Linked DNA regions of Homo sapiens: region 2 is linked to region 1. Evidence: fine-mapped expression QTL. A gene starts in region 1. The other region holds a variant in brackets. All regions are shown on one strand. Distances are between the middles of the regions. Region 1 holds the start of PDE4A (phosphodiesterase 4A). Region 2 overlaps KEAP1 (kelch like ECH associated protein 1).

What was found. PIP is the estimated chance that this variant, and not a neighbour inherited with it, causes the effect. A credible set is the group of variants that fine-mapping cannot tell apart.
Region 2: its variant is the best candidate, but not a certain one, in a credible set for the expression of PDE4A in liver (GTEx, PIP 0.72).

The regions. Positions count from the first base shown.
Region 1 is chr19:10,419,314-10,421,813 of GRCh38, reverse strand. PDE4A (phosphodiesterase 4A) reads right to left here and starts at 1,276. Exons shown (of 15, transcript NM_001111307.2): 1 at 730-1,276. The coding sequence starts at 1,049. RefSeq lists enhancers at 234-423, 1,604-2,483 and silencers at 634-683, 914-1,383.
Region 2 is chr19:10,488,049-10,491,051 of GRCh38, reverse strand. KEAP1 (kelch like ECH associated protein 1) reads left to right here. Exons shown (of 6, transcript NM_203500.2): 4 at 1,199-1,404; 5 at 1,684-1,860. Among named protein-coding and RNA genes, the nearest start is that of KEAP1, 14 kb to the left of the region's middle. The variant C/T (reference allele first, on the strand shown) is at 1,310.

The sequences.
Region 1 (2,500 bases):
CTCAACACACATGCACCCTCACTATGCTGTCACCTCTGCAGTCAGGGACTCCTTCCCTCTGTGCTGGGACTGCGCCCCCCCTCCACTGTTTCCTGCCTCTGAACAGCTACTTAACGCTAACACTCTTGCCCTGAGAGGGGAACTCCAATCTAACGCAAGGCTCCCAAAACAGTGCTCCCCCAAGAGGCACCCTCTGGATTTCTGACCCCAGCTGCTGCAGGAGGAGTCCACTAACATCCCCGCAATAGAGTCCTCCATCCCCTAGAAGGACCCTGAGAGCACCCCACCCTGAAGTAAAGATCCTGGTCCTAGCAGGCACCCCCTTATGGAGTGCTCCAAGAGTACCCCAAACACTGCGAATCTAGCCCTCAGTATAGTGCCCCCAGGAAGGTCCCTCCAAGTGGTTCCCAGCTTAGCAGCTGTTCTGCACTGTCACCAAGAATACAGACCCCTAAGTGTGCAGCCCCCTTCCCCAACCCAGACCTCGTTAACACCACGCGCAGCGTGGCGCCCCCTAAATGGACCCCAGGATGGGCTTCAGCAGGAAGCCTCCCGTAGAGCGCACAACCAGGGGCCAGGTCCCAGACGCCCCCGCAGCCGAATTCCCTCCGCCCCCGCCAGCCAAACCGACCCCACCCGCATCCTAGCGCCCCCTGCGGCCGGCAGCTCGAGTTGCCTCCTCCCTGCGCGCCCATCCGTTCCGCGCGCATCCGCCGCGGGGAGTCTTACCGCCTGCTGCTGCCTCCGCCCGCGCCGCCGCTGCCGGTGCCAGTGCCATGGAAGGACGAGGGCCAGGACATGCGGGTCGTGCGCAGGCCGGGCCGGTCGCTGGTGTCCATGGCATCGGCGCGCTCTATGGGCCGGTGCGGCTGCCGCTCCCGCTCGGCGCGCTCCGCGCTGTCGGAGTAGCCGCGCTGCTGGATACGGATGGGGGTCCGAGGCTGCCGCCACAGGTGCTGCGGGGGAGGCTTCAGGGTGGCCTGGCCCTCCCGGGGCCCGGGCAGTGACAGAGACAGGCTCCTTTCCGAGGGGACGGTCGGGGGTTCCATGGCGCCGGCCCCCACTTGCGCCCCAGGGGGCCCTGGCCCTTCCAACCTACACCCCGCTCAGCTGCGCGCAAGCCAGCGAGCCCAGGGCCCCGCGGGTGCGCCCGGCCGCGGTAGGGCCATGGCGCCCCGGGGACAGACCCGGGGGCGCTGCGGGCCAATCGCCCCCGGGCCGGGCTCTGCAGCTTCCTTTCGGCGCCTGGAGCTCTGCTCAGTGCCCGGCGGCGCTCTCCGCGCTCCGCGCTCCGCGTTCCGCGGCCCGCTCGGCGCCAGCCCCGGCTCCTCCGCCCCGTCCCGCCCCTCCCCGCCCCCCGCCCGCCGCGGCTGTCAGCGCCGCCCCCCTCCTCCTCCGTCCGGGCCAGCGGGGGGCAGCTACCTAAGGAGGGGGGCCCTTCCCGCCCACGCAGATCCCCGCTCCGGGCTGGGAGGGGGCGCTGGAACTCGTCTGTCTTCAAAGCACCCTGCTTGGCCGCGGCGCGCACAGGCACGAAGGAGTTAAACGGTTAATCCGATCTGGAAGCAGACACCGGACTGGTTGCCAGAGTGTCAGTCAGTCGGTCCATCATGGCGAGGGCGGAGTCCGGTGTTGGCGTGTCCTCGCCGCTACCCCTGGCGGGGGGCAGTTTTTGAGGAGTGGTCCTAGTGCCACCGGCGCGGTACCTGCAGCGGGCGGCGGCAGAGTGTGTGGGATCTCCTGTCTGTGCGTCGGAGGATAGTGATGGTGCGGGCCCGGGGCGGGATGTGCGCGCACGTGGCCTCTTCCGAGGGTTGTCTGTGTTTTCAGTGTCGGCTGGAAGTGTGTGTGCGCACGTGGTTGGCTGCTGTTGTCTGCCCGTTTCTCTGGATTTGGCTGTGTGTATAACTGTGTGTGTCTGTGGGTGAAGGATGTGTGCGCACATGTGCTACCTATTTGGAGGATGTGCATCCCTACGTGGTCTTTTTTCAGGTGGCCTGGGGACTGTGAATGTGTTCTCAAGCGCTTGGATGCGTTTGTGGTCGGTGTGTGCTTGCGGAGTTGTGCACGCGATTCGGCCTCTGTCGTCTGACTGTAGTGTCGGAGGACGTCTATGTATGTTAGTGTGTGCGTGTGCGTGAGTGTATGTGTGTGGTCGGCCTGGGGCCTCTGGGGTGTTTCTGGGGTGTGTCCCATTGGTTCCCTTGTGGCTCCAGGAAGACACCCTGTGGCGGATACCGCAGCTGCCGGCCCACCGCTCTATACATCGCTGCCTCTTCTAAAGCGCTTCTGCCAGAGGTAAACTGAGGAAGGTCCCAGGTAGCCGCGGAGCGCACCCCCGTGCCCTTTTCAGGCGAGTAAACAGGCGAGCCTCCTCCCTGCGGCCCCCGCCAGCAGAGCCCCCCTTCCGGCACCTAAATCGGGAGTCGCCGTGACTCACGCTCCCGCCTCCCCCAGCGCCGCGCCGAGCGAGCAAGCAGAGAGCGAGCGGGATCCGAGT
Region 2 (3,003 bases), 69 kb before region 1:
AGATGGGGTTTCACCATGTTGGCCAGGCTGGTCTTGAACTCCTGTCCTCAAGGGATTCTCCCACCTCAACCTCCCAAAGTGCTGCGATTACAGGTGTGAGCCACTGTGCCGGACCTAAAGGACTCTTTGAGCATCAAAGAGTGATGCTGAATGTGTGATTTCTCCTTTCTGAGATGTTATCTTGTTATCTGTGAAGTGGGGGATCTGGCTGAGCCACTAGGGGTTTATCAGATGTGTTTTTGAACTTGAGCAATTGATGGCTAGGAGGCTCAGTTTTGTCATTTGGAAAATGGAGTTGCTGATACCTCAATCCTTGGAGAACAACTGCAAGCACTAGAGTTCGAGTGGAGGTGGGCACGGTGGTGTGCACCTGTAGTCCCAGCTACTCAGGAGGCTGAGCCAGGAGGGTTCCTTGAGCCCAAGAGTTGATAGCTGCAGGCTGGGTGTGGTGGCTCATGCCTATAATCCCAGCCCTTTGGAAAGCTGAGGCAGGCAGATCACTTGAGGTCAGGTGTTTGAGACCAGCCTGGCCAACATGGCGAAACCCAATTTCTACTAAAAATACAAAAATTAGCCGGGCGTGGTGGTGGGTGCCTGTTATCCCAGCTACTTGTGAGGCTGAGGCTGAATAACTGCTTGAACCCAGGAGGTGGAGGTTGCAGTGAGCCATGCTCTCACCATTGCACTCCATCTCAAAAAAAAAAAAAAAAAAAAAGTTTGAAGCTTCAGTGATTGCACCACTGCACTCCAGCCTGGACAACGGAGCAAGACCCTGTCTCTTTTTTTCTTTTTTTTTTTTTGAGATGGAGTCTCGCTCTGTTGCCCAGGTTGGAGTGCAGTGGCATGATCTCAGCTCGCTGCAACCTCCGCCTCCCAGGTTCAAGTGATTATCTCGCCTCAGCCTCCCGAGTAGCTGGGATTACAGGCATCTGCCATCACACCCAGCTAATTTTTGTACTTTTAGTAGAGACAGGTTTTTACCATGTTGGCCAGGCTGGTCTCAAACTCCTGAGCTCAGGTGATCCGCCCTCCTCGGCCTCCCAAAGTGCTGGGATTACAGGCATGAGCCATCGCGCCGGATGAACCTGTCTCTTTAAGGGGGAAAAAAAAAAGGAAAAAAAAGAGTATCTGGCCCTTAAGTATTCCACGAAGGTCAGCTATAATGGCCATTGTCCCCATTTTTCTTACGCCCTTGCAGGTATGAGCCAGAGCGGGATGAGTGGCACTTGGTGGCCCCAATGCTGACACGAAGGATCGGGGTGGGCGTGGCTGTCCTCAATCGTCTCCTTTATGCCGTGGGGGGCTTTGA[C/T]GGGACAAACCGCCTTAATTCAGCTGAGTGTTACTACCCAGAGAGGAACGAGTGGCGAATGATCACAGCAATGAACACCATCCGAAGCGGGGCAGGTGGGTGGGGACGGTAGGGAGGGGAGCACCCAGGAACACCCCCTACCATCCTGGGGTGAAACTGAGCCAGGCCTGGGAGAGACCCCCTGTTGCAACCCTCATGCTGGGGTAACCACAGAAGCCCTGGATTCTGATAGAGTCCAAGCTTCTCTCTCTCCCCGCTTCATTTCTGAGGGTGAGAAGGGAGAGGAGAGAGGAAAGGTCTCCCTCAAGGAGGTGATGGCTGGGGTTCCCAAAGCCAGACCCCCAGAGTCACCTTCTCTGCATGGTGCCCTTTAGGCGTCTGCGTCCTGCACAACTGTATCTATGCTGCTGGGGGCTATGATGGTCAGGACCAGCTGAACAGCGTGGAGCGCTACGATGTGGAAACAGAGACGTGGACTTTCGTAGCCCCCATGAAGCACCGGCGAAGTGCCCTGGGGATCACTGTCCACCAGGGGAGAATCTACGTCCTTGGTGAGGCCCTGGGGGCGGGGAAGAGTCCTGACTAGCCCATCTTTTGTGGACTGCTTTTGCTTTTGCTTTCCTTTTTTTTTTTTTTTTTTTTTTTTTTAGAAACAAGGTCTCGCTCTGTTGCCCAGCTGGAGTGCAGTGGTGTGATCACAGCTCGCTGGAGCCTCAACAGCCTGGGCTCCAGCCATCCTCCTGCCTCAGCCTCCCAAGTAGCAGGGACCACAGGCGCGCACCACCACACCCGGCTAATGTTTTTTTTCTTTTGAGATGGTGTCTCACAGTGTTGCCCAGGCTGGAGTGCAATGGCATGATCTCAGCTCACTGCAACCTCCACCTCCTGGGTTCAAGCGATTCTCCTGTCTCAGCCTCCTGAGTAGCTGCGACTACAGGCACATGCCACCACACCAGGCTAATTTTTTGTATTTTAGTAGAGACAGGGTTTCACCATGTTGGCCAGGATGGTCTCGAACTCCTGACCTCGTGATCCACCTGCCTCGGCCTCCCAAAGTGCTAGGATTAGAGGCATGAGCCACCGCGCCCGGCCTGTTTTGTTTTTTGTTTTGTTTTGTTTTGTTTTGTTTTTTGAGACAGAGTCTCAGTCTGTTGCCAGGCTGGAGTGCAATGGCACGATCTCAGCTCACTGCAACCTCCGCCTCCTGGTTTCAAGTGATTCTCCCCCATCAGCCTCCCAAGTAGCTGAGATTACAGGCGCCTGCCACTATGCCCAGCTAATTTTTGTATTTTAGTAGAGATGGGGTTTCACCATGTTGGTCAGGCTGGTCTTGAACGCCTGACCTCAGGTGATCTGCCCACCTCAGCCTCCCAAAGTGCTGGGATTACAGGTGTGAGCCACCGCGCCCAGCTTAATGTTTTTGTTTATTTTTATTTTATTTTATTTTATTTTTTTGAGACAGAGTTTTGCTCATGTTGCCCAGGCTGGAGTGCAATGGCGCAATCTTGGCTCACTGCAACCTCTGCTTCCCAGGTTCAAGTGATTCTCCTGTCTCAGCCTCCTGAGTAGCTGGGAATACAGGCACGTGCCACCACGCCTAGCTAATTTTTTTTTGAGATGGAGTTTCACTTTCGTTGCCCATGCTGGAGTGCAATGGCTCGATCTCGGCTCACTGCAACCTCCACCTGGCAGGT